4 linked regions of the Homo sapiens genome follow. The protein of the gene in region 2 purifies or fractionates together with the protein of the main gene of each other region. This does not show direct contact. Each region holds a gene or a part of one and is shown on either strand. Other genes may lie near its edges.

The links.
Region 1: the proteins of TCEANC2 (region 2) and WASHC4 purify together in Homo sapiens (affinity purification with mass spectrometry; 2 studies listed by BioGRID and IntAct, with this or other methods). This does not show direct contact.
Region 3: the proteins of TCEANC2 (region 2) and ARIH1 purify together in Homo sapiens (affinity purification with mass spectrometry; 2 studies listed by BioGRID and IntAct, with this or other methods). This does not show direct contact.
Region 4: the proteins of TCEANC2 (region 2) and ANKHD1-EIF4EBP3 purify together in Homo sapiens (affinity purification with mass spectrometry, with the first as the bait; 2 studies listed by BioGRID). This does not show direct contact.

What each region holds. Positions count from the first base shown.
Region 1 is NC_000012.12:105,166,731-105,169,681, forward strand, and holds the end of WASHC4 (WASH complex subunit 4), read left to right. Parts: intron 1-133; coding exon 134-201; 3' UTR 202-2,400; downstream 2,401-2,951. UniProt on the Homo sapiens protein: Acts as a component of the WASH core complex that functions as a nucleation-promoting factor (NPF) at the surface of endosomes, where it recruits and activates the Arp2/3 complex to induce actin polymerization, playing a key role in the fission of tubules that serve as transport intermediates during endosome sorting.
Region 2 is NC_000001.11:54,056,608-54,063,607, reverse strand, and holds part of TCEANC2 (transcription elongation factor A N-terminal and central domain-containing protein 2), read right to left. Parts: intron 1-7,000.
Region 3 is NC_000015.10:72,561,291-72,568,341, reverse strand, and holds part of ARIH1 (E3 ubiquitin-protein ligase ARIH1), read right to left. Parts: intron 6,860-7,051; coding exon 6,793-6,859; intron 4,949-6,792; coding exon 4,842-4,948; intron 1,780-4,841; coding exon 1,737-1,779; intron 1,237-1,736; coding exon 1,165-1,236; intron 1-1,164. UniProt on the Homo sapiens protein: E3 ubiquitin-protein ligase, which catalyzes ubiquitination of target proteins together with ubiquitin-conjugating enzyme E2 UBE2L3.
Region 4 is NC_000005.10:140,397,361-140,404,853, forward strand, and holds the start of ANKHD1-EIF4EBP3 (ANKHD1-EIF4EBP3 protein), read left to right. Parts: upstream 1-4,472; 5' UTR 4,473-4,607; coding exon 4,608-4,913; intron 4,914-7,493. Other genes in the region: ANKHD1 (ankyrin repeat and KH domain-containing protein 1), read left to right, coding at 4,608-4,913. UniProt on the Homo sapiens protein: May play a role as a scaffolding protein that may be associated with the abnormal phenotype of leukemia cells. Isoform 2 may possess an antiapoptotic effect and protect cells during normal cell survival through its regulation of caspases.

The sequences.
Region 1 (2,951 bases), on a different chromosome or scaffold from region 2:
AGAGAAACATTTGATGGATGCAACTGTAATTTGAAGTTTGGCAATACAGCTCTTCTCAAATTTCTTTTACTTCTTAATTTATTGTTTAAAAATGAACATAAATATCCATTATTATTTTCACTCATGCTTTCAGAAGAAACTAAAACAAGCAATGGAGACCTGTCTGACAGCACTGTGTCTGCTGATCCTGTTGTGAAATGATACGGATGGTATTCACTGCACATATGATGAAATCATCAGAATTGTTAAAACTTTTGCCAGTGGAATGGATAAACTATTGATGAATTGTTTCCTGGGTCACATCTCTGGAAAATAGATGTTACAGTTCTTAAAGGCAGTGCTTTAAAGTGAAGTTCATTCTGTTTCCAAAGGCTCTACTTTCAAAGGTTAAGAATGAGATTTTAAAATTGGATTTTTGCCTGGACTTGAGGGTACAAGATGTTTCTATTTGAAGTGAAGTTATAAAAGGGCAAATCCAGATTCATAAACTATCACCTCGGATTTCTTGTAATCTACATGTTTGTAATTTGTATTTGCATAGATCTTTGATCTATAGTTATTTCAAGTCATGGGAAATTCAATGCATATACTATATACAGCCAGTAAATACATGCTTAACAAAAGGAATGAGCCTGAAGTTCATAAAGAATACATATCAATATTCTTATAAAAGGAATATATGAAGATGGCTTTGATACTAGAGGTGAGGCACAAGTGTTTTATGTACTCTCAGTGTACAGTATAACTGATGATCCTTCTTTCATTGTTAATTTCATGTGACTCACAAGAGCTGCTGATGTCTTTGATGAGACATTTTATAACTAGTTTACATTGCTTTGAGAACATTTAACCTCCAACAGCTGCTTTAAATTTAAGATTTACTTAATACTCAGAAAATTCAGATAAAGCCATAGAGTCCTGTTTGAAGCTTCACTTCTATTTTGGTTGAAGGCATGATGTATGATGTCAGAAAAAAAATTGAATGAATTATTTCTACATCCAAACTCAGGTTTCTTCTACATTAGATTGAATTGAAATTTTGGTGATGGTTTGGGTAGACTTTTTTTTTATATCAAGTATAATTTAAAACATCAGATTAAATAATTACACTGTTCAGGCTTTTAAAAAAATACCACTGTGAGAATAAAGCGCTAGCAAGATACATCACTTACTGATTTTAAAAATACAGAAAGATTTTGAGTAAATTTTGTGCCCAGCAAGCTGTTAGTTTTATTTTTGTAAAGGTATGTAAGTTATTAAATGGTTAATCATGGCCTTTTAAAAATAAAATAAAGTGATACCTTTACAATGAAGACAAAAGTTTAAAACTTTCTAATACAAACACCATTTTGGGAAATGCTTGATTTTTTTCTATTGCATTTGTCTGCTAAACATTTCTTTGGATAAATCCTGCAAATACTTCTAACATTATTCTTTGATTCCAGCTTTTAGAATGGGTGTACAATGCCCTGTTTGTACTTACTGGTTAGGGTCAGGGTAACTTGCCAGCCCAAGATAAATACTTTAATTGTTAAAAGTCAGAAGAGACAGAATATGTAGGAAATGTTTTTTGTTTATTATGTAAACATGGCTTACAGAATTATGAACAGTGGATAGATTAAAGGCATTTAATATTTGTAATTCATAATAACTGTAGAAATGGCCCTAAAGCATGCTGCATAATTAATAATTTATATTTTCATTATTATAAGTGTTTATATTAATGATCTTGCATTTGATTATATCAAATTCGTCATTTCATAGCAACAGTATTGTTTTCTCTGTTTTTCTTCTCTAACTTCTCTGAAATCATCTCCTATTAAGGGATAGAAATTGTTACTAGAAGAGAATCACATGTTCTGTGTTCATTATCCCTACACATGTAAATTAATTATTTTATCAATACTAGATAGAGTTCACATGCTGACTCCCTGGATACCTACAGTTGAGAAGAAAATGACAGACAATTATTTTTCCTTTAGGTCAAAATAATGTCACTGCTATCTGGATAAATTATAAGTTCATATATTTGAAATAAGATCCTGGAAACGAATTTAAATGGTGTCAAACTGCAGAGCAACAGGGCTTCAGTATATTCACATCTAATAGGTTAATATGTACATTTGGATGATGATTTTTCTTGATAACATTAACATTAATTTTATTTTTTCAGACATACTGTAATTTAAAAATTAATGTGAGCGTTTGTTTTAAGTTCACAGAAAACTTAATAATTCAAATTCTCAGGAATTAAGGACTCACCATAACATTGTCAGTTCTAATGAAATTTTGTAAAAGATGGCAAGTTTGTTACCTCACTTGAGTGGGGTTTTCCTTTTCCCCCAATTCTAAGAGAATATAATGTGTATACTAAAACATTAATAAACATAATTTTGAAAATTTCCTTCCCCTGGATGTTTATGTTCAAAATTGAATGTCGTAAACCAGTAGTTCTTAATATTAACCTTTTTGGGGTCCCCCTTAATTGAATGAAATGAAATCTGTGGAATCATTTTTTTATAAAATGCATGCACATAGGTAAAAATTTGAAGTTTAAAATTGGCTCCTGTCAATGTATTCCAGGTGAAAGAAAGGTGTTTTCTTTCCTTTATACATCCTTGATCTTTCCAGAGCTTTTTTCCAATAAAAAGAACCAATATGAAGTTACTTTAAATCCTAATCCTGGAAAGGGATTATCAGTATGCATTGTTTAATGTTAGTAATAACTATAGTGCTATTTGCAAACCTGAGTTGAACTAAAACAATACAGTAGTCTCCCCTTATCCGTGTTTTACTTTCCAGTTTCAGTTACCTGTGGTCAGCTGTGGTCTGAAAATATTACATGGAAAATTCCAGAAACAATAAGTTTCAACTTGTGTGTTATTCTGGGTAGCATGATGAAATCTTGTGCTGTCATGCTGCATCCCGCCTGGGACGTAAGTCACCCCTTT
Region 2 (7,000 bases):
GTACCATGTTGGCACTCAAAAGTGTTGGATTTTGTGACATTCTGATTTCAGATTAGGATGCTCAACCTGTATAGTAATCTAGAAATGATTTAGACTATACAAGAAGATCTATATAGAGTATAGGCAAATAGCACACCACTCCATATAACAGACATGAGCATTAGTGGATTTTGGCACCTGTAGTGGGGGTCCTGGAACCAATCCCCTACAGATACTGAGAGATGACTGTACACATATTCATGCATGGTAATAAGAGTGTGGTTCTAATTTATTATTATTGTCCACTCTTTTTCCATCTAAGACCCTGAGAAGGTAACAATCTGCTTCCCTGGACCAGTGGATGGAATTTTTCTAGCTCATTTCTCACAAACATATGGTAGTCCTGTTTCGGCTTCCAGCTTCACATAGGAGATCAATTCTAGCTCCCCACATCACATTAGCCCGAGGTCTTATCTCCCATCCATACTGGCCTTAAAATCCCAGCCCCTAAGCATTATATCTGGATTCAATGTTCCCTGGAACTATTTAGCTTCAGCTCCCATTTACAGCTCTGATTTTGCTTTCCTCTCTCTTCCTGGCACCTAAGGATTTCCCTTTCTTGCTTTCAAGCTCAGCTCTGTATTGGAGACTTTTAATCCAGCATTTCTGCATGGCTGGAATCAGGTTAAGAGTTCCACATCAGATAATATCAACATATGGAACTAAAGAAGTCCAAACTCTTTAGCATGGCATAAAAGGCCTTCCATGACTTGGCTCCTGACATTCTTTTCAGTCTCATCATTTGCTCCAGATACGCCAAACTATTTACAGCTTCCTTTTGAATTTCATACCTTTGCCTGGGATGTTCTTTCTTTACCTCATTTACCTGATAAATACTTATTCATTTTTTAAGACTCTCTTCAAGCATCATGTCTTCTATGAAGCCTTTCTTGCCTCTCCTTTACCACATTTTACCATACTCCACTTTGCGTCCCTCTGCAACTTGTATAGACTCCTATTATTGCATCTATGCTTTCTGCAAATACTTACCATCGACAAGGCTGTCTTTCCCTTAAGGGCTGGAACCATTTCTCATTTATCTCACTATCCCCAGTGCACAGTAGGTGTAACTGAACAAAACTATTTCTACCTTCAAGGACTAAGTACAGTACAGTTTTCAGATATGAAATTTTAGGTCAGGAATAGGAAAAACATCAGTCTATTCAAGAGCAAAAGAATTCCATATATATCAAGAAATGTCTCAATCTCTAACTATGGGCCAGAAAATAGATTGCTCAAATTATTTGGAGGAACAAGAGAAATGGACACAAAATATCAATAAGGACACTACAATGAGGAGTAGAATAGTTATTGCCAGAAAGAAGATGTGCTTTCCAATATACCATCTGGTTTTACAGTTGTGGATTGCTGAAATGTCAGGTTTGACAAAACCAATTAGGGAAAATGATTCACTCATAAGCAGTTACGTGGGCACCATTCCACTGGTGGGGGCAGGAGGCAACATATTGGCTAGTTGATCCTACAAAGGCAGGAAAGGTTCATAGAACCTTCTGAAGTGATGAACCTAAAAGAATGAGTATACTCTAGGACCTTTTAATTTAAAAAATTCTCTTATTGCAACCAACAGAAGAAATCACTTCCTCTTAAGGGAGTAAAAAGAGATTAACCAAATTAACCTTTACCACTTAAATGGACATTACATGAGCTCTATTGAGAATCACTTTTATAGAATGTGATACACCTATGGCAAAATTACTTGTAATATATACTGATAACAGAAGTACAATGGTCCTAATATTCCAAGATTTTTATACCTCTTCAGTTTGGCATTCAGAAACTTCCACTTTTTTTTTTTTCCAGCTCACCCTATCTATAGGGGACAGACTATGAACCCAGATTATCTAGTTCAAATCCCAACTTTGCCACTAATGGCTACATGACTTCAAGCAAGCTACTTAATCTCTCTGTGCCTTAGTTTTTCATCTGTAAAATATAAATGATAAAAGCATACATATCACAAAGCTATTATTAAGATTTAAAGAGTTAATATATGTAAAGCATTAGTTAGCACAATGCCTGGACCATAAAAATGGACTCAATAAATGTTAGTAGTAATCCTTATTACTACTATCATCCTCCTCCTCCTCAGCTTTGGTTTTACTATACAAGCCCCTCCTTTTCCATACATGAAAAGAGGAAACTATTGGTTTTTACTACATACCAGGCACAATGGTTAGCCCTTTCAATATGAATTTATTTATTTCACTCTCATAATAATCATGCAGATGGGGTACTGTTATTTCTGATGTTACTGATGAGGAAACTGAGGCTTAAACATTTAGTAGGTTCTTGGCATTAAAACATAATGCTCATGTTTGGAAGTCACTTGGCAGAAAGTGGACCTAGCTGATTCTAACATTCACATTTAACTCAATTTCTTTTTAATTTGCCATTGTGAACACACCAAGCATCATGCATACATAGAGGAAACAGAAGAGCACATACCACTCATTGAATGGTTATATGTCACTACTTCCCTAGAGTATATCAGACCTAGTCAAATCCTCCTGTCCCTTTATGGTGCCCTGCCACATAGCCTTCTTTGGGCACTAAAACAGGGACTAAGCTCTCTCTTCTCTTACCTCTTTTTTTTTTTGTTTGAGACAGAGTCTCGCTCTGTCACCCAGGCTGGAGTGCAGTGGCATGATCTCGGCTCACTGCAACCTCTGCCTTCCGGGTCCAAGTGATTCTCCTTCCCCAGCCTCCTGTAATCACGAGTAGCTAGGATTACAGGCGCCCACCACCACACCCGGCTAATTTTTGTATTTTTAGTAGAGATGAGGTTTCACCATGTTGGCCAGGCTGGTCTCAAACTCCTGACCTCAGGTGATCTGCCCACCTCAGCCTCCCAAAATGCTGAGATTACAGGTGTGAGCCACCACGCCAGGCCTCTTCTCTTACCTCTTAGCCCTTATTGTCTATATGACAATTCTGTAATGGATCACATATAATTTTTCCTCATTATTTTATTTTATTTTTGAGACAGGGTCTTGCTCTGTTGCCCAGGCTGGAGTACAGTGGTATGATCATAGCTCACTACAGCCTCAACCTCCTGAGCTCAAGCAATCCTCCTACCTCAGCCTCCCTAGTGGCTAGGACCATAGGCGCATGCCACCACGCCCGGCTAATTTTTTTTTTTTTTTGAGATGGAGTCTCGCTCTGTCGCCCAGCTTGGAGCGCAGTGGCGCAATCTCAGCTCACTGCAACCTCCGCCTCCCAGGTTCAAGCAATTCTTCTGCTTCAGCCTCCCAAGCAGCTGGGACTACAGGCGCGCGCGACCACGCCCAGCTAATTTTTTATTTTTAGTAGAGACAGGGTTTCACCATATTGGCCAGGCTGGTCTCAAACTCCTGACCTCATGATCCACCCGCCTCAGCCTCCCAAAGTGCTGGGATTACAGGTGTGAGCCACTGCGCCTGGCTGCTAATTTTTTTTGGTAAAGATGAGGCCTCACCATGTAGCCTCACCATGTAGTTTGGTCTCAAACTCCTGGGCTCAAGTGGTCTTCCTGTCTTGGCCTTCCAAGTGCTGGGATTATAGGCATGAGCCACCACACCTGGCTTCATTATTTATTAACTTCTTATAATTTGATCACTTTTCAGGAAGTTTCATGAGGGTTTGTATTTTGATCTTAAGTTTCTCTCATGTTCTCTATAGTACTTAGCATTGTGCTGGGCATAAGCTGTTTCACAACATTTGTAGAATACTTTACTATCAAAACCCTACAACGGCATGCCAGAATACAGATGATTACTGTTTATTCAATACATTTTACCTACAGTGTAGCAGGCACTGTGTTAGGTTTTGGAGCAGATCAGAACATAATAAGATATTACAGTCCCGGGTCTCAGGAATTCATAGTGGATTGGAGAAAGCTACAGGTAATCAGACAATTACAATACAGTAAAGTAAATGCTTCCACAGATATTTGAACCAAACGTTGAGAGTACTAATGAGGGAAGGATTAACTCCCTTAGAGAACCCAGAAAGCATTTCAACATTCATTTATTTGACAAATATTTATTGACCACTTAATATGTGTCAGGCACTGTGCTACGTCCAAGGGCAGAGAAGTAAATAAAATACTCAAGATCCTGACAGAGTGTGGTGGCTTACGCCTGTAATCCCAGCACTTTGGGAGGCCAAGGCAGGTGGATCACCTGAGGTCAAGAGTTCAAGGCCAGGGTGGCCAAATGGTGAAACTCCATCTCTACTAAAAATACAAAAATTAGTTCGGTGTGGTGGCAGGCACCTGTAATCCCAGCTACTTGGGAGGCTGAGGCAGGAGAATCGCTTGAACTCAGGAGGCAGAGGCTGCAGTAAGCTGAGATCATGCCACTGCACTCTAGCCTGGGTGATAGAGCAAGACTCTGAGTTGAAAAAAAAAAAAAAAAAGAAAACTCAAGGTCCTGTACTCATGGAGTTTATAATCTAAGATTTATAGGCAAAGTAGTTCTTGAGTGGGTTGACAAATGGGTAGAAATTGACTCTGTAAAAAGAAACAGAAGGGCTTTCAAGGAAAAGGGACAAGCATCAAGTTCAAGGAAGCCCTGAAGGCATGGAAGGGAAGAGCTTATACAAAGAACAGCAAGAGGCTGGGCACAGTGGCTCACGCCTGTAATCCTAGCACTTTGGGAGGCCGAGGCGGGAGGATCACGAGGTCAGGAGTTCAAGACCAGCCTGGCCAAAATAGTGAAACCCCGTCTCTACTAAAAATACAAAAATTAGCTGGGCATGGTGGCGTGTGCCTGTAGTCTTAGCTACTTGGGAGGCTGAGGCAGGAGAATCGCTTCAACCCAGGAGGTGGAGGTTGCAGTGAGCCAAAATCTCGCCACTGCACTCCAGCTTGGGCAACAGAGTGAGACTTCATGTCAAACAAACAAGCAAACAAACAAAGAACAGCAAGAAATAAGGTGTGGCTGGAATGCGTACATATAAAGCAGGGGCTACAAGGTATGAGACGATAAGCGCACTGGGGTAGAACAGGTCTCACGTGCCATGCCAAGCCTTTTATTTTACTTCATTTGGTCATTCAGAAAAATGTACTGCAGCCTACTATAGGCCAAGTCCTGTGCCAGGAACCAGTGACACAAAATCAATGAGACATAGTCTTTCAAGAAGCTCAGAGTATAGCGGGGCACAGGCATGTAAAGAAACAACCATGATACAGCACAAATAAGTGCAATGATACAGACATGTTTAATATACAGGGATGGCTCAGAGAAGGGAGTGATTAGATTGGCTCTGCGTCTCAGGGACAAAAGGGTGGTCAGGAAGGGCCCAATAGTAGAGGATTTGAACTAGGTCATGGGAGATGAATAGGATTTTATAAAGTAATGATAATAACAATAATAGCAAAGACTTACAAAGTACTTAGTATTGGCCAGACTCTGTACCAAACACTTTACATATGTTGACTCACTCAAATTTCATAATACCTTATAAAACAGGTATTATTAATCCCCATTTTATAGATTAAGATGGACACAGAGAGGCTAAATAACTTGACCAAGGTCACGAAGGTAGTAAGTAGCAGAGCTGGGATTTTAGTAAGGCAGTCTGGCTCCAGAGTCTATGTTCTTAATTATTGCATTATATTGCCTCCAAGACAAGATAGTAAGGGAATTCCAGGCAAACAGGACAGTATATGCAAAGGCACAGAGGAAGGAAAGAGCACAACATCTTTGGGGAATTGTGAATGGTTGACATTGGATGAGGCATAAATAAAAAGACTAGCAGGGGATGAGGCAGGCAGGCGCCAGGTCATGGAAGGCCTTGGGTGTCATGTAAAAAACTGTGATCTTTATTGATGGGTAATGAGAAATTATTGAAGGATTAGGCAGGAAAGTGACCTGAGTAGATTTTCTTTTCTATTTGAGACATATTTCTCTGGTGTAAGAGTGGAAGGGAGGTGAATGCGGGATGTCAAAGGCAGGGAGACAAGTCAACAGACCATAGCACTGCTCTAGATGAGAAGTATGATTCTGAACTTAAAGTGGAAGACAATCAAGTGAGTATGGGCAAGAAGGATTTTTAGGAAGTAAAACTAAAAATTGGGGCCAGGCGTAGTGGCTCATGCCTGTAATCCCAGCACTTCAGGAGGCCAAGGAGGGCAGATAGCTTGAGCCCAGAAGTTCAAGACCAGACTGGACAACATGATGAAATCCTGTCTCTACAAAAAAAAAAAAAAAAAAAAAAAATTAGCCAGGTGTGGTGGCATGTGCCTATAGTCCCAGCTATGATGTGATCATAGTCCCATGATCACATCACTGCATTCCAGCCTGGGTGACAGAGCGAGACCCTAAAAAAAAAAAAAAAACAAAGAAAAAAGAAAATTGGATATGAGAAAAAAGAGTTAAGGATGGTTCCTAGATTTCTAGTCCCAGTTACTTGGTATACGGATATACATTAATACAGGAGAACAAGGAAGAGGTTTGGAAGAAAAGCTAATGCATTTAAGGGGAATGTTATTAAATATGCCTTTTGTTTTATTCTTTTTTTTTTTTTAAATGGTGTCTCACTTTGTCACCCAGGTTGCAGTGCAGTGGTACCATCCTGGCTCACTGCAACCTCCAGCTCCCAGGTTCAAGCAATCCTCCCAGCTCAGCCTCCCAAGTAGCTGTGACTACAGGCGCTCCCCACCATACCCAGCTAACTTTTGTATTTTTTGTAGAGATGGGGTTTTGCCAAGCTGCCCAGGCTGATCTCGGACTCCTGGGCTCAGGTGATCCATCTGCCTTGGCCTCCCAATGTGCTAGGATTACAGGCATGAGCCACTGAGTCCAGCCTGTTGTTTTATTCTTATTCCATAATTTTCACATCATTTATTTTCATCATCACACATAGTGATTTTCAACTAGGGCACGAGCAGGAACCCAGAGGGGAGAGCGGTAGGAGGAGGTATATTAGAATATGGGTGTTTGGGCCAGGTGCCGTGGCT
Region 3 (7,051 bases), on a different chromosome or scaffold from region 2:
TAAAGAATTCTGGGACTTAAGGAACATTTCTTGTGGGAAAATCTTCAATTTTCAAAAAAAGAATGCTTGGCTAAGAATTTTTTTTTAATAACAAAACAAGTAACCACTTTCTGACATTACAGTATATTTATAGTAAGGTTTTCTTTGATTGACGTGAGTTATGCTTATCGTGATGGTTTTGGAGGGAACAAAAAATATTAATTTCTACCATATATTCCTTAAAGACTTGGGCATTTGTTTTATGTGGCAAGATTCACTGTTTCACTACTTTCTGGGAGACAGAAATATAAATTCATGTTTTATATATAAGTATGTAAGATGTATATTTAAACACACACAGACAACCTGCGTCGGCCTTCATTGTTTACACACTTCTTAATCTCATTGTCCTGTGATGACTGAGGCAACAGTTCAAAGATAGCTTTATATACTATGGGTCAAACAACTCAGCATTCTTTAAAGCATCATCTTTACATGTACAAAATAATACTAAAAATGAATAGCCCATGAACCAACCTACCATTCATTACCCAAGTCACTCACTATGGGGATAGGATAGGACTGAATTACATAAAGGATGGATAATACGACTTTGTATTAAAAGACTAGCTGGGTACACGGTTGGCATTCAAATGCTTGCTCATTAGATTAGTGATCGAGGAGAAGGGTACTCAAGATTTAAACACTTCTAAGACATTTGTCTGGGGTTAAGAAAGTGAATTTTGAAATTGAATTTTGAAACTAGTATCAAGAGCAATGTACTTCAAAACAAAAAATTAGAAACAAAAATGTAAATTAGCCTAACAGAACCAAGCTAGGCGGAGTAAACTCCAATGCATTTGTATACTAAATGGCAGCCAAGCACAAATCCCACACTTGAAAAATTATCAGCTTTTTCCTCTACAGAACACTAATTTTTTTTCCAGTAGAAGAAACCTAAGGCAGAGAACTGTGGATGCTGTACTACAGTACTCAATACTCTAAAATAAACTCAAAGAGAAAAAGGAAATAACAGGCAAACATTCTGGGAAAAAAAAAAAAAGACTCAATGGAGAAAAAGATGAAACAAAGCCTGTAAGTAGGTCACCTCATTGCTTTTGCTAATGCCAAAGTACCAATCCTTATCATTTTTATTACCAAGAGTTACTGAAGGAAAACACCAACCTTTGTGTTGGCTGCAATCCAATTGGAGGTTTCACTGTCATCATCACACTTTTTAATCCATTTCTTTAACCACTGTTTGAAAATAACAACGGTTAGGATACAACAAAAGACTTTTAAAAATAGCAAATTACTTTAGCACTTAACTATAGTCAAGCTTAAATGTAAAAGCCAATGAATAAGATTATCACTAGGCTCACATCCTCTTAAGCCAGGGAAATCCCATAGCTACAATGTCCAGTATATATAAAATCAACCAAAGCAGGATTTTCTTTGGCAGAAGCTGAGTGGGGAACCTAGAGCTTGAAGAGAAGCCCAACTGCAAGGTGTGTATTCCCCTAATTACAAAGCCTGACAAAGAGGTGCCTTAGCCATGGTTATCCTAATAACAATCAGGAGCTGACTTGGCTTATCCTAAGGAATTACCTCTGAATACATGTAATGATCATCTGAAATTAAAAGGATAAAAAAAAATCTATCAATAGATAGATAACAAAATCATCAGCTATGATTTTTAGTCACTAAGTCTTAGAAGTGTGCCATTATTTAAAAATTGAAATGTCAGACAAACTCACCTTACATTTAACAGGATCATGCCAATTTTCTCCACAGTTAAAGCTGTTAAGTGACACAAAGAGTTAATAGAATTAAGGCCTACCTACTGTAAGCAAGTAAATAAGCCAATCATTTCATGCCTTATAGTTCCACAGTATTGTCACTAGTTTCTAGTGACTGGCAAATACAAGGAGAGAACCCATGTCTGCTTTACAGTTAATTACCTAGAATTTAGTAGTAGAACTAGCACATAGTGGGTACTCAATATGTGTGAAGAATGACTATAAGCATGAAGACACGCTTTGATGACAATTTCATAATAATTGTTGCTAAGGTGCCTCAGACTATATTGAGAAGTTTCAACCCATGCTTCATCAGTGCATTTTTAATCTTTTACTTAACACCCTAAATGAAGAATAAAAGGCTGACTTTGTAGGTTACTTATATAATTTAGTACTAATACACAGTAAACAATATATGGGAAGCAAATAGGTCACATCTTTGCATTATTTAAACAAATGAACCTCCGCCCTGTAGAGGGAAATGGTACTGGGCAAGGTATAAAACAAAAAGACTAAATACTCACTAAACATGTGTTAATCAGTAATTCACTTTTGTTTTCTAAGTTCATGACATATACACTTGTAAAAGAAGTATAATTAACAAACACAAATGCTTAAGAAAAAAATAATAAAATGACAGATTAATTAGCTAATTAAGTAATTTACGAATGGCAAAAAGTCCTTTGCTAAAGACAGAAACAAACTACTATTGATTTAAATCAGGTTAAGATAAATGGTTATTTCTGAAAAGAAAGATGGGGAATGGGAAGGAGCAGGGAACCAAGGAGCTTCAAATATATGTGTCATGTTTTATCTCTTAATGAAGAAAAACAAAATACTAATTTTGATTTAACTGGATTGTAGCTATATAGGTATTCACTGCTGTATTCTCTATACTTTTATGTTTGAAATGTGTCACGCTAAAAATACATTGGAAAGTAGGTATTATCCACCTTTTCTCTAAAATAACAATACATAATTAATCTTTATCGAAACAGTATGTATTTTACACATACTTAATCTCTGTGAGCTTACCTGCTCTTTTTGGAAATATTTATTATTAATGATGTGTTAAGTGTAATTCTATAGATGTTTGGAGGAAAAAAAGAAAGGTATGGAATACCAATAAAATATTTCCCCCTCCAAACCACCCCGCAGCAAAAAAGAAAATCTGGCTGGCCATGGTGCTTCTCACCTGTAATCCCAGCACTTAGGGAGGGCCGAGGCAGGTGGATTACTTGAGGCCAGGAGTTCAAGACCAGCCTGGCCAACAAGGTGAAATGCTGTCTCTATTAAAAATAAATACATAAATAAATAAACAAATAAATAAATAAATAAAAATTAGCCAGGCGTGGTGGCACACGCCTGTAATCCCAGCTACTCAAGAGGCACAAGAATCACTTGAACCTGAGAAGCAAAGGTTACAGTGCGAGATCGTGCCACTGCACTCCAGCCTGGGTGATGGAGTGAGACCCTCTCTCAAAACAAAACAAAACAAAAAATCTATTTGCTGGGTCTAGAGCCCCTTGACTTGATTGGCTTCTTACTCCTCAAGACCCTCAAAGGAACAGAAAATCATCTTAACTTCTAGCAGGATATAAATGTTTGTGTCCCCCTAAAATGTGTATGTTAAAACTTAATAACCAATGTGACAGTATTAGGATGTGGAGCCTTTAGGAGGTGAATGGAATTGGCATCCTTTTTAAAAAAAAAAGGGGCCCAGAGAGCTGCCTTGTCCTTTCCACCATATGAGGACCCAGCAAGTAGGCACCATCTATGAACCAGAAAAGCAGGCCCTCGCCAGACAACAAATCTTTTGGCACCTTGATCTTGGACTTCTCACCCTTAAGAACTGTAAGAAATAAATTTATGTTGTTTAGAAGCCGCCCAGTTTATGGTCTTTTGTTATAAAAGCCTGAACATTAAGACAGAAAATGGTACCAAGAAGTGAGGGTGCTGTTCTAACAAAACCAAAAATGTGAAAGCCGATTTGAAACTAGGTAGTAAGTAGAGGCTGGAAGAGCTTGGAAGTGCAAGCTAGAAAAAGCCTAGATCACTGTGAATGAACTGAATTGTTAAGGGTAATTCTGGTGAGGATTCAGAAAGACAGAAGTGCAGGGAATGCCTCAATCATAGAGAAAACCTAAATAAATGGCCATGAACAGAATGTTGTTAGAAATATGGACAGTAAAGGCCATTATGATGAGGTCTCAGATGAAAATGAGGAACATGCTGTTAGAAACTAGAGGAAAGGCCATCCTTGCTATAAAGTGGCAAAGAAGTTGGCTGAATTGTTTTGTGGAAGGTAGAGAAATGAAACTGAATATCTGGTTGAGGAAATTACTAAGCAAAGTGTTGAAGACGCAGCTTAGCTTCTCTTGAATGTTTATAGAAAATGCAAGAAGAGATGAATGACCTAGAGATAAACTGTTCATCAAAAGGAAATAAGAAGTCAAAAATTTGAAAAATTTTCAGCCTATCCACTTTGGAAAAAACTAGAACACCTATAAAGGAGCCTGAACTGATTAAGACATCCCCTAATATGTGGCACTGGAAACTTCCTGGCAGTTCAAATCTAGAATTCAGAGGCTGAAGAGTATACTATAGAACTCCAAAAGCCCAAGTTACCAAGAAAGCTGGGCGAGAGGAGCCACAGGAAAACTCTTAGTTAAAAAGGAGACCATCAGCAGAATTTACCTGCACATTTCCTTTGCATAAGTAAGGTTAAAATTTGGCAGAGTAAAGAAAAACGTATAGTCCCAGATCTACAAGTTTGCTCCCATTAAGTTACAGTGGAGCATACAGGAAGATATGATTAGAGTTGTATATTTTCTCCATAAAAAAAAATTCAAAAAAGTTAGAACATCAAGGAAAGAGGAAAAATTTTTTTAAGATGTGACCTTTTCATTCAATTCTGAAAGAGATATATACTATTTTAAACCAGTATCAAACATCTCCCTGCCTAAGGTAAACACTTTTTTTCTGCTATTTTACTACCAAGAATAAACAGGAGAAATGGAAACGCTTTGTGCACTATTTCAATTTAGGAAATCACTTGCTTACCAAAATTGGCGCCCACATTTGCAGCGAACAGGTTTAGCATCAGGATATTGGACTTTAACAACATGGTGGCAATCTGGGGCAGGACACCACTTTAACAGTCGATTGCACTGAAATACAAGTTAGAAAATAAAAAATGACAGCTGGCTGGGCACAGTGGCTCACACCTATAATCCCAGAACTTAGGGAGGCCAAGGCGGGAGGACTGTTTGAGGTCAAGCACTCCAGACCAGCCCGGGCAACATAGCAAGACCTTGTCTCTACCTTAAAAAAAAGAAAAAAGAATTTAGCCAGGCATGGTGGTATGTGCCTGTAGTCCCGACTACACAGGAGGCTGAGGCAAGAGGATCACTTGAGCCCAGGAAGTAGAGGCTGCAGAGAGCTGTGATCATCTGCTGCACTCCAGCCTGGGTGTTAGAATGAGGCCCTGCCTCAAAAAAAGACAGCAAATTAAATTAGGTCATGATGCAAGATTTCCTAGTACATCAAGCTATTTATATTGCTTCTCTGGTACAAGGGGCAAATGGGGGATAATTACACAAGCTTATGAAAACTTGCTGTGGTCTTCTATAGCAACACTTCAGATGTGCCTTTTTTTTTTTTTTTTAAAGATGACTGATCCCTGAAGACCTGGTTTTATAAAATACATGAATCACCTCTTGTTCTATCTTCAAAATCCCACTGAATAACTTTAATTAAATATCATGTATGTGACCATTAAAAACCACTAATTTATTTACAGTTCTATTTCAGAACAATTTTCAAAAGACACAAGAAAATCAGATATACTCTTTATCAAGGAAGGTGTTTAGAAGCTACAGAATAGTTCAAGATAGGCTAAAGGATATACATACAACTTCTCCCATAAAAAGCTCTTGTAAGAAGGAAAAAAAAAAACAAACAAAAAACCCAGTTCCTAAACCACAGGCAAAGATTGCATTTTAGTTCCTCAAAAGGAAATATAACTTTTATAGTATTATGAAAAAAAAACACTCTGCACCAGAATTCAGAAGTCCATTGACCATTTCAAATAATACACTATTTCTAAAATAGGCTGTTTCCAGGTTTAATCTCTAACAGAAATAATTACTTTCTAGAATTAAAAGACCAAGTTACTGATGTTGTCATACAGGGGCTGAAAAACTCCTCTGTAACAAGCCAAGAGGGTAAAGAATTTTGGTTTTGCAGGCCAGAACAGTCTCTGTAGCAACTACTCAACTCTGCCACTGTAGCACAAAAGGAGTCATAGAACAAATGGGCAAAGGCATGGTCCAATAAAGGATAGCATTCTTTATTAACAAGATTTACTGGTAATGAAACCTAAAACGAGCAGAGAAATAGCAGGGTTAGAATCTCAAACATGATTAAACATGACACGATTAGTAATCTACTACAATTCTCAGCTAGGGATAAAGAAAAGTAAAGGAAGAATACAGTAAAAATAATTTTATTATCCAAGGTCAAGATCTATGGAGAGATGTACTTACTGGTTTCTCATACTCTTTTATTTTATTTTATTTTATTTTTTATTAAGAGGGAGTCTCGCTCTGTCACCCAGGCTGGAGTGCAGTGGCGCCATCTCGGCTCACTGCAACCTCTGCCTCCAGGGTTCAAGCGATTCTCCTGCCTCAGCCTCCCGAGTAGCTCGGATTACAGGCTTGTGCCACTGTGCCCAGCTAATTTTTGTATTTTTAGAAGAGACAGGGTTTCGCCATGTTGGTCTTGAACTCCTGATCTCAGGTGATCCACCCGCCTCGGCCTCCCTTAGTGCTGGGATTACAGGCATGAGCCACCACACCTGGCCTGTCATACTCTTTTGAGAATAAAGGTATTTTGGCATGCTTCATAAATATGTTAAAGATGTTTTTTACTGTCAATAAATTATAATTTTTAAAATAGTATTTCTATTAATAAACAGAATTCCTTCTTACAAGAAGGAAAACAAATCACTTACCTCTACAAAGCTATTTGTTATTAAATGCTGATACTTTAATTTAACTTTTGAATCTGTGATCAGGCGCCTGAAACCAAGAATAAAAATAGATTAGAAAGTTTCCAGTCAAGAGTATTTTCCACATTTATAAAACATAGTTTCAAAAGCTGTTTATGCTACGGCTACATGTTTATGCCCTAAGCTGTAAATACTGAAATGCACATAGGCTATCAACAAATATAACTGTACTGATCAGAACAATAATTTCAAAGTTTGTATA
Region 4 (7,493 bases), on a different chromosome or scaffold from region 2:
TCAAGGCCATGGCAGGTTATTGGGAAAAGTTTTCAATTAGCAATAATGATGCCTTTGGCTATGATACTGCCACTGAGCAAATCTCCACTCCATTTTTTTTCTTGAGACAGAGTCTCGCTCTGTCACCCAGGCTGGAGTGCAATGGCGTGTTCTCAGCTCACTGCAACCTCTGCCTCCCAGATTCAAGCGATTCTCCTGACTCAGCCTCCTGAGTAGCTGGGATTACAGGTGCGTGCCACCACGCCCAGCTAATTTTTGTATTTTTAGTAGAAATGGGGTTTCGCCATGTTGATCAGGCTGGTCTCGAACTCCTGACCTTGTGATCCACCCGCCTCAGCCTCCCAAAGTGCTGGGATTACAGGCATGAGACCCCACACCCAGCCCAATTTTTGTATTTTTAGTAGAGACAGGATTTCACCATGTTGGCCAGGATGGTCTTGAACTCCTGACCTCAAGTGATCCACCCACCTCAGCCTCCCAAAGTGCTGGTATTACAGGCATGAGCCACCATACCTGGCCTGAGTGTGATTTTATTTATTTGTCAAATGTATCACTTGATATTGTGATGATTTATCAATGAGTTTTCAAATTTTAAAACCATAGGAATGTAGTATATATGGAACTATTGAATCACATTTTCTTTCTTTCTTTTTTTTTTTTTTTCGAGACAAAGTTTCACTCATGTTGCCCAGGCTGAAGTGCCGTGGTGTGATCTTGGCTCACTGAAACCTCTGCCTCCCAGGTGCAAGCAATTCTCCCGCCTCAGCCTCCTGAGTAGCTGGGATTATAGGCGCCCACCACCACGCCTGGCTAATTTTTTGTATTTTTAGTAGAGACGGGGTTTCATCATGTTGGCCAGGCTGGTCTGGAACTCCTGACCTCGGGTGATCCACCCACCTTGGCCTCCCAAAGTACTGGGATTACAGGCGTGAGCCACCATGCCCAGCCATTAAATCACATTTAATAGAGATTCTATATAGCAGTCACCAAAATATAGGAGACTAGGAGTTCCTAATTCCCATACTGACTGTCAAACTACTGACAAGTATCTCAAGTAAAGGTCCTGGTGAAACAAAGATTATTGCTCAATCACATTTCTTTAGCTATACTCAGGGTTAGTTGCTAGGCACTGAGTAAAGAGAGTGTTTTCTTCCCTCTCAAATAAATTGAGAAAAATGTATATATATCCAGATTTCCTTTCCCTGTGTCCTTGAGAGTCATTGTATTTGTTTAAAGAATTTAATGAGTTTGTTCAGGGAGTTGCATCAGAAATTATTTTTGTATCAGTAGTAAGCATGACAACTAGTTCCTTTGTAATGCTGTACCAGTCAATACCTGTTTTTGCCTAAGGATGTATCCATACCAATTCTGGATAATCCAGCTTTGAAGTGGGTTGGGCAGTGCCAGGTTTCTTTTGTTGGTGTTATTAGTTTGGGTTGTGACTTAGTCACACATGCCTTGAAAACTTAACAGCACTGAGGATATAGGCTAATTAAGTTCCACAAATGCTAACTAAAGCCAGTGTACATAGCATTTACATTAAAATAGTTCTCTAGAATAGGTACAAGACTTTTTTTTAACATTTTCTACAACTTATTTATTATCTAGAAAGAACATTTAACAAACATGTTCTGCTCATAGAAAACACTATCCTTTACATGTGAAATGTCAAAATGAGCAATTACTAAGCCAAAGAAATGTTTATGATATTCAAAATGTTTTTTAAATAAATGTTTGGCAGAATCAACTTTTAAAGTTATTTTAAAAATCATTATATTCTTATAAAATTTTAAGATCCCAGTTTAAGGATGACGAAATATTAAATATTGCACAGTTGAGATATATAAAGGCCTTTGTTAAAGTTGTAAGAGAGGAGAAAATGACTTTTTTTTTTTTTTTTTGAGACTGAGTCTTGCTCTGTCGCCAGGCTGCAGTGCAGTGGTGCGATCTCGGCTCACTGCAACCTCCGCCTCCTGGGTTCAAGCGATTCTCTTGCCTCAGCCACCCGAGTAGCTGGGATTACAGGCACGCGCCGCCACACTTGGCTAATTTTTGTATTTTTAGTAGAGACGGGGTTTCACCATGTTGGCCAGGATGGTCTCCATCTCCTGACCTCGTGATCCGCTCACCTCTGCCTCCCAAGGTGCTGGGATTACAGGTGTGAGCCACTGCGCCCGGCCATTTTTTTTTTTTTCAGCCAAATTCTGTTATCATATGGACATTCTCTGGGTCAAAGGATATTTTCCATACAAACCACCAGACTCCTTTTTTGGTCATGTCTGATTAAAGGATTAGATAGAAACCGTTTTTTTTTTATTTTTTTAATTTTTTTAGACAGGGCACCGCTCTGTTGCTCAGGCTGGAGTTCAGTGGCACGATCTCGGCTCACTGCAACCTCCATCTCCCAGGCTCAGGGGATCCCTCCCACCTCAGCCTCCTGAGTAGCTGGAATTACAGGCATGCACCACCATGCTCGGCTAATTTTTTTTTTTTTTTTGAGACGATGTGTTGCTCTGTCGCCTAACCTGGAGTGCAGTGGCACGATCTTGGCTCACTGCAAACTTCGCCTCCTGGGTTCAAGTGATTCTCCTGCCTCAGCCTCCCGAGTAGCTGGGATTACAGGCACGCACCATCACATCTGGCTAATTTTTGTATTTTTAGTATAGACGGGGTTTCGCCATGTTGGCCAGGCTGGTCTAGAACTCCTAACCTCAAATGATCCGCCCACCTAGGCCTCCCAAAGTGCTGGGATTAACAGGCGTGAGTCACCGCGCCGAGCCCAATTTTTGTATTTTTGGTAAAGACGGGATTTCACCATGTTGCCTAGGCTGGGCTCGAACTACTGGGTTCAAATGATCCGCCCGCCTCAACATCCCATAGTGTTGGGATTACAGGCGTGAGCCACGGCGCCCGCTATAGAATCTGAATATTTTTAACCCCCCTCTTTACTGACAAGATAAAGACAGAGATAGAGAGATGCATATAGGGAGGAAGAGATCTCCTTAGAGGAGGGAAGACCACCACAGCTAGCCTTGTTTTGCACCACACAGATCTGATTAGAACTAGAATTAGTTGGGCTGGCAGGACCCAGGGGCGAGCAGAGAGTTCCTGAAGGAAGAGGAGACAATAACTAGCAAAAATGAGTCTTTCCTGTAAGTTTGGGACTTTGCTAAGCGCTATATTATCATCTAATTTATTCATAACAACAACCCAATGAGGAAGGTACTAATATTACTCCCATTTCACAGAGGAGCGAGTTGAAAGTCACAAAAATGAAACAGCAAACGCGCCGAAGTCAGGCAGCAAGTAAGTGGCAGCACCAGAACTCGAAACTGCCTCGGAGCATGCACTCTTCACCACCCCGTTCCACCTTGAGGTCGGATTCCGCACGCCGTTCGCGGCATTCCCACCTTCCTACGTGGGACAGTTCCCGGTACTGAGGCATGGCGCTGTCCAGCCCTCAGGCCCGCAGCCGTCCGCAAGCAGGAGAACGCGGCCCCGCTGGGCGATCCTGCCCGAAGGCGCCCGAACTGCGGCGCGCGGCCGGGTCCTGGCGGGCGGGTCGAGTCTCCCCAAGGCGGCCATCCCAAGCAGCTCCCCGGATGTCCCTCAGACCCGCGCGCTAGGCTCAACTCAGAAAGGCGGGAGGCGCGAAGCGAGATCGGCCTTGCCCCTCGACTGTCCCCTCATCGCTCCCCGTCCTCTATTCCCTCCCAAATAGCCCCCGGCAAATAGGTTACACATCTTCACCTGTCCCAGAGGTGGTGACTGCTCTAGTGACTGACGCTACGCTCCTCCAACCAGGCAATGGCAGGAAGGTGGAGCCTTCCTAAGACTGATGGCTTCCTTTCTCCAATCCCGGTGCAGCTATTCTCCGGCCATAGTCTCGGCGCCCAGCGGAGAGCGACAGGTGGGAGCTGCGTTACTTCGGCGCCTCTTGCATCCTTGACGTAGAAGTTTCACCAAGCGCAGGGTGAAGTCTACTCCAAATTTGACCAATTCTTGCGGGTCATCACTTCAGCAGTCATTTTATTCAGAAGTGGAAATTTCCCGGCCCTTTCCCGTCACCTCAGATGAGGGCGGGATCAATGGTACTCCCACAGGCCAATTGTACCACGCGACGTCCCGCGACAAAGTGACCGACACTTTATGGCGCCAATGAATTCTCCCATTGTTCGGGGTCACTATGACTGACCACAAGGCCAACTAATCCACTTTAAGGTCGTGACGCGATAGTCAGGCGGGTTGGCCAATAGACATAGGAAAAGAGCGGAAGTCAGCTGGTGAAGAGTGGGAGGCGGGTGTTCGCAACCGCCTAGGCCTGCGCGGGTCAACGCAGCTTGGCGGCTGCGAGCCAGCGAGCGGCGCGTGACGAAGAGCCTGAGCGACGGGTCACTTTGGCCAATGATCTGCAGCCGCCAGGGTATTGCAGCCAGTGGCGAGTCGAGGGGGCGGGAGGCAGCAGGTTAGGCAGTGAGAAGTTAGTGGCGCTGCTGGGACGGGGGAAAGGAGACGCTTCTTCCTCTTGCTGCTCTTCTCGTTCCCGAGATCAGCGGCGGCGGTGACCGCGAGTGGGTCGGCACCGTCTCCGGCTCCGGGTGCGAACAATGCTGACTGATAGCGGAGGCGGCGGCACCTCCTTTGAGGAGGACCTGGACTCTGTGGCTCCGCGATCCGCCCCAGCTGGGGCCTCGGAGCCGCCTCCGCCGGGAGGGGTCGGTCTGGGGATCCGCACCGTGAGGCTCTTTGGGGAGGCCGGGCCAGCGTCGGGAGTCGGCAGCAGCGGCGGCGGCGGCAGCGGCAGCGGTACGGGCGGAGGGGACGCGGCGCTGGATTTCAAGTTGGCGGCTGCCGTGCTGAGGACCGGGGGTGGAGGTGGTGCCTCTGGCAGTGACGAGGACGAAGTGTCCGAGGTAAGGCTCCGGGACCCTCGCCTCCCACACATTGTGAGGCGTGAATTCTCTTTGGGTAGGCTCTGGGCCGGGGCCATCCTCCCGCTTCCCTGGTGGAGCCCTTCTGTGACAGCGGTCGGCTCCATGGCGGCGGTGGCCGCGGTGAGGGCCTAGTGAGCCCTCGGCTTACTCTTTAGCTCGAGCGGGACAGGTTCCCGTCACCATTCGTAGACCCACAATAGGGAGTCCTTTGGTCTCTGAGCTTCGCGCGGGAACAGGGACTCCTCAGGCTGCCTCCCGCCCACCCTGCTTTGGAGTTGGGGGTGGGGGGCGGGGTCTTGCCAGAGTCCCTGCCCTTGGTACTGAGAGAGACAAACAGAGACAGAGACAGAGCTGGTGCAAAGATCGTTTCTCTTCTTTGCCTCTCCTCAGAGTTGAGGGATACGTTTATTTGCCTTCTGCCTTGTGTGTGTCTTACCTGTGTGCTTAAGGACGGTTCTTATTCTCCCTCTTCAGTTTGAGACAGGTTTGAGTATTAGGGATCTCTCGGCTTTTACCCTGAAAAATCACGTGACTCCTCCTTCTGGGACCTTTTGTGAAGTTAGACAGGAAAAGGAAGTTCCAGGGCATCCCTGAGCTTCGGAATAGCTGGGTAGCTGAACTCGGAGGTTTTAGGCTTGGAGAAAGTGGGGCAACCTGTGGAAACCTCTTCTTTTTTTTTTTTTTTTTTTTTTTTTTGAGATGGAGTTTCGCTCTTGTTGTCCACGCTAGAATACACGTGATCTCAGCTCACTGCAACCTCCGCCTCCCGGGTTCAAGCGATTCTCCTGCCTCAGCCTCCCGAGTAGCTGGGATTACAGGCGTGCGCCACCACGCCCGACTAATTTTGTATTTTTATTAGATACGGGGTTTCACCATGTTGGTCAGGCTGGTCTCGAACTCCTGACCTCAGGTGATCCGCCCGCCTCGGCCTCCCAAAGTGCTGGGATTACAGGTATGAGCCACCGTGCCCGGCTGGACACCTTCACTCTGCCTTTGCAGTGAAGTCCTTCATTTCTTTAACTCTTCTGTGTGTACTCTAATGTGTACACATTTTTAGGTCTGAGCAACCTGGGATGGTAGGCATTAACTTCTTTTGGGTTCTGGGGAAAAAGGGGCGGGTTTTGTTTTTGTTTTTTGAGATGGAGTTTCGCTCTGTCGCCAGGCTGGAGTGCAGTGGCGCGATCTCGGCACACTGCAACCTCCGCCTCCTGGGTTCAAGCGATTCCCCTGCCTTAGCCTCCTGAGTAGCTGGGACTACAGGCGCGTGCCACCACTCCCGGCTAATATTTTGTATTTTTTAGTAAAGACAGGGTTTCACCATGTCCAGGATGGTCTCGATCTCCTGACCTTGTGATCCCAAGGGGCGGTATTTTATGTGTATACTTTTTTCTGTTGACTGTGGCTTGCGTAGAGTACTGTACCGTGATTGTTTTAAGTGCTCAGAGTATTTCTTCTATTTTGGTTCTGAGGTGCCTGAGTTGTCACCTGTGACCAGTTATTTTAACCTCTGGTCTTGGTGTTAAAGTACAGGAATTTCTCTGTGTGTACTAACAATCCCGGCTCTTGGATTTGAGAGGAATAAGGAGAAATTATTTGTGGGTTACAGACTGCAGTTAGTATACTGTCTTATCATTCTAGGTCTGAACAGGGTTTTATTTAATATTTAAAACCTTAGTACATTCTGACCCTAACATTTTGCTTTGGAAAAAAAAGTGTGTGGGTTATAAGGCGGGTAGTCCCTTGAATGTCTACGTCTTTGAATTTCACGGTAAGGGAAATAACTTCTAAGCCAAGGTGAGAGAAATGTTTTATTTGAGTAGGCAGTTATGGGGAGAGACTCTGGAGTATCCCTGCTCTTGGTCTTGTGGAAGGCTTTATTTTATCCTTTCAGTGAAACGTGAGAGATTAAGCTAGAACACAGTACTTTTTAGCTAGGAAATGAAGTGTGGGGGATATCCTTAGACTAAAGATTAGAGCTTATTTTCTATGAAACTTGTAAATGAGAATCTGAAAGAGTTTGCTTTGGTCTAAATGTGATAGAAAAAGGGGACCTTGATTTTCTTGACCATTTTTACATAATTGTCATGGGTGAGATGAAAGGTCACTCATTTGCCTTTTTTTTTAATTTTAATTTTTTGTTTTTTTTGTTTTTTTTGAGACTGTGTCTTGCTCTTGTCACCCAGGCTGGAGTGCGGTGGCTCGATCTTGGCTCACTGCAACCCCCGTCTCCCAGGTTCAAGCTATTTTCCTGCCTCAGCCTCCCTAGTAACTGGGATTCCAGGTGCCTGCTACCACGACTGGCTAATTTTTTTGTATTTTTAGTAGAGACGAGGTTTTACCATGTTGGCCAGGTGGGTCTCAAACTCCTGACCTCAGGTGATCGCCCTCTCAGAGTGCTGGGATTACAGGCATGAGCCACCACGCCCGGCCTTAATTTTTTTTTTTTTTTTGAGACAGGTTTTGCTATGTTGTCCAGGCTAGCCTCAAACTCCTGGGCTCGGGTGGTCCTCCTACCTCAGCCTCCTAAGTAGCTGGGACTATAGGCACACGCTACTGTGC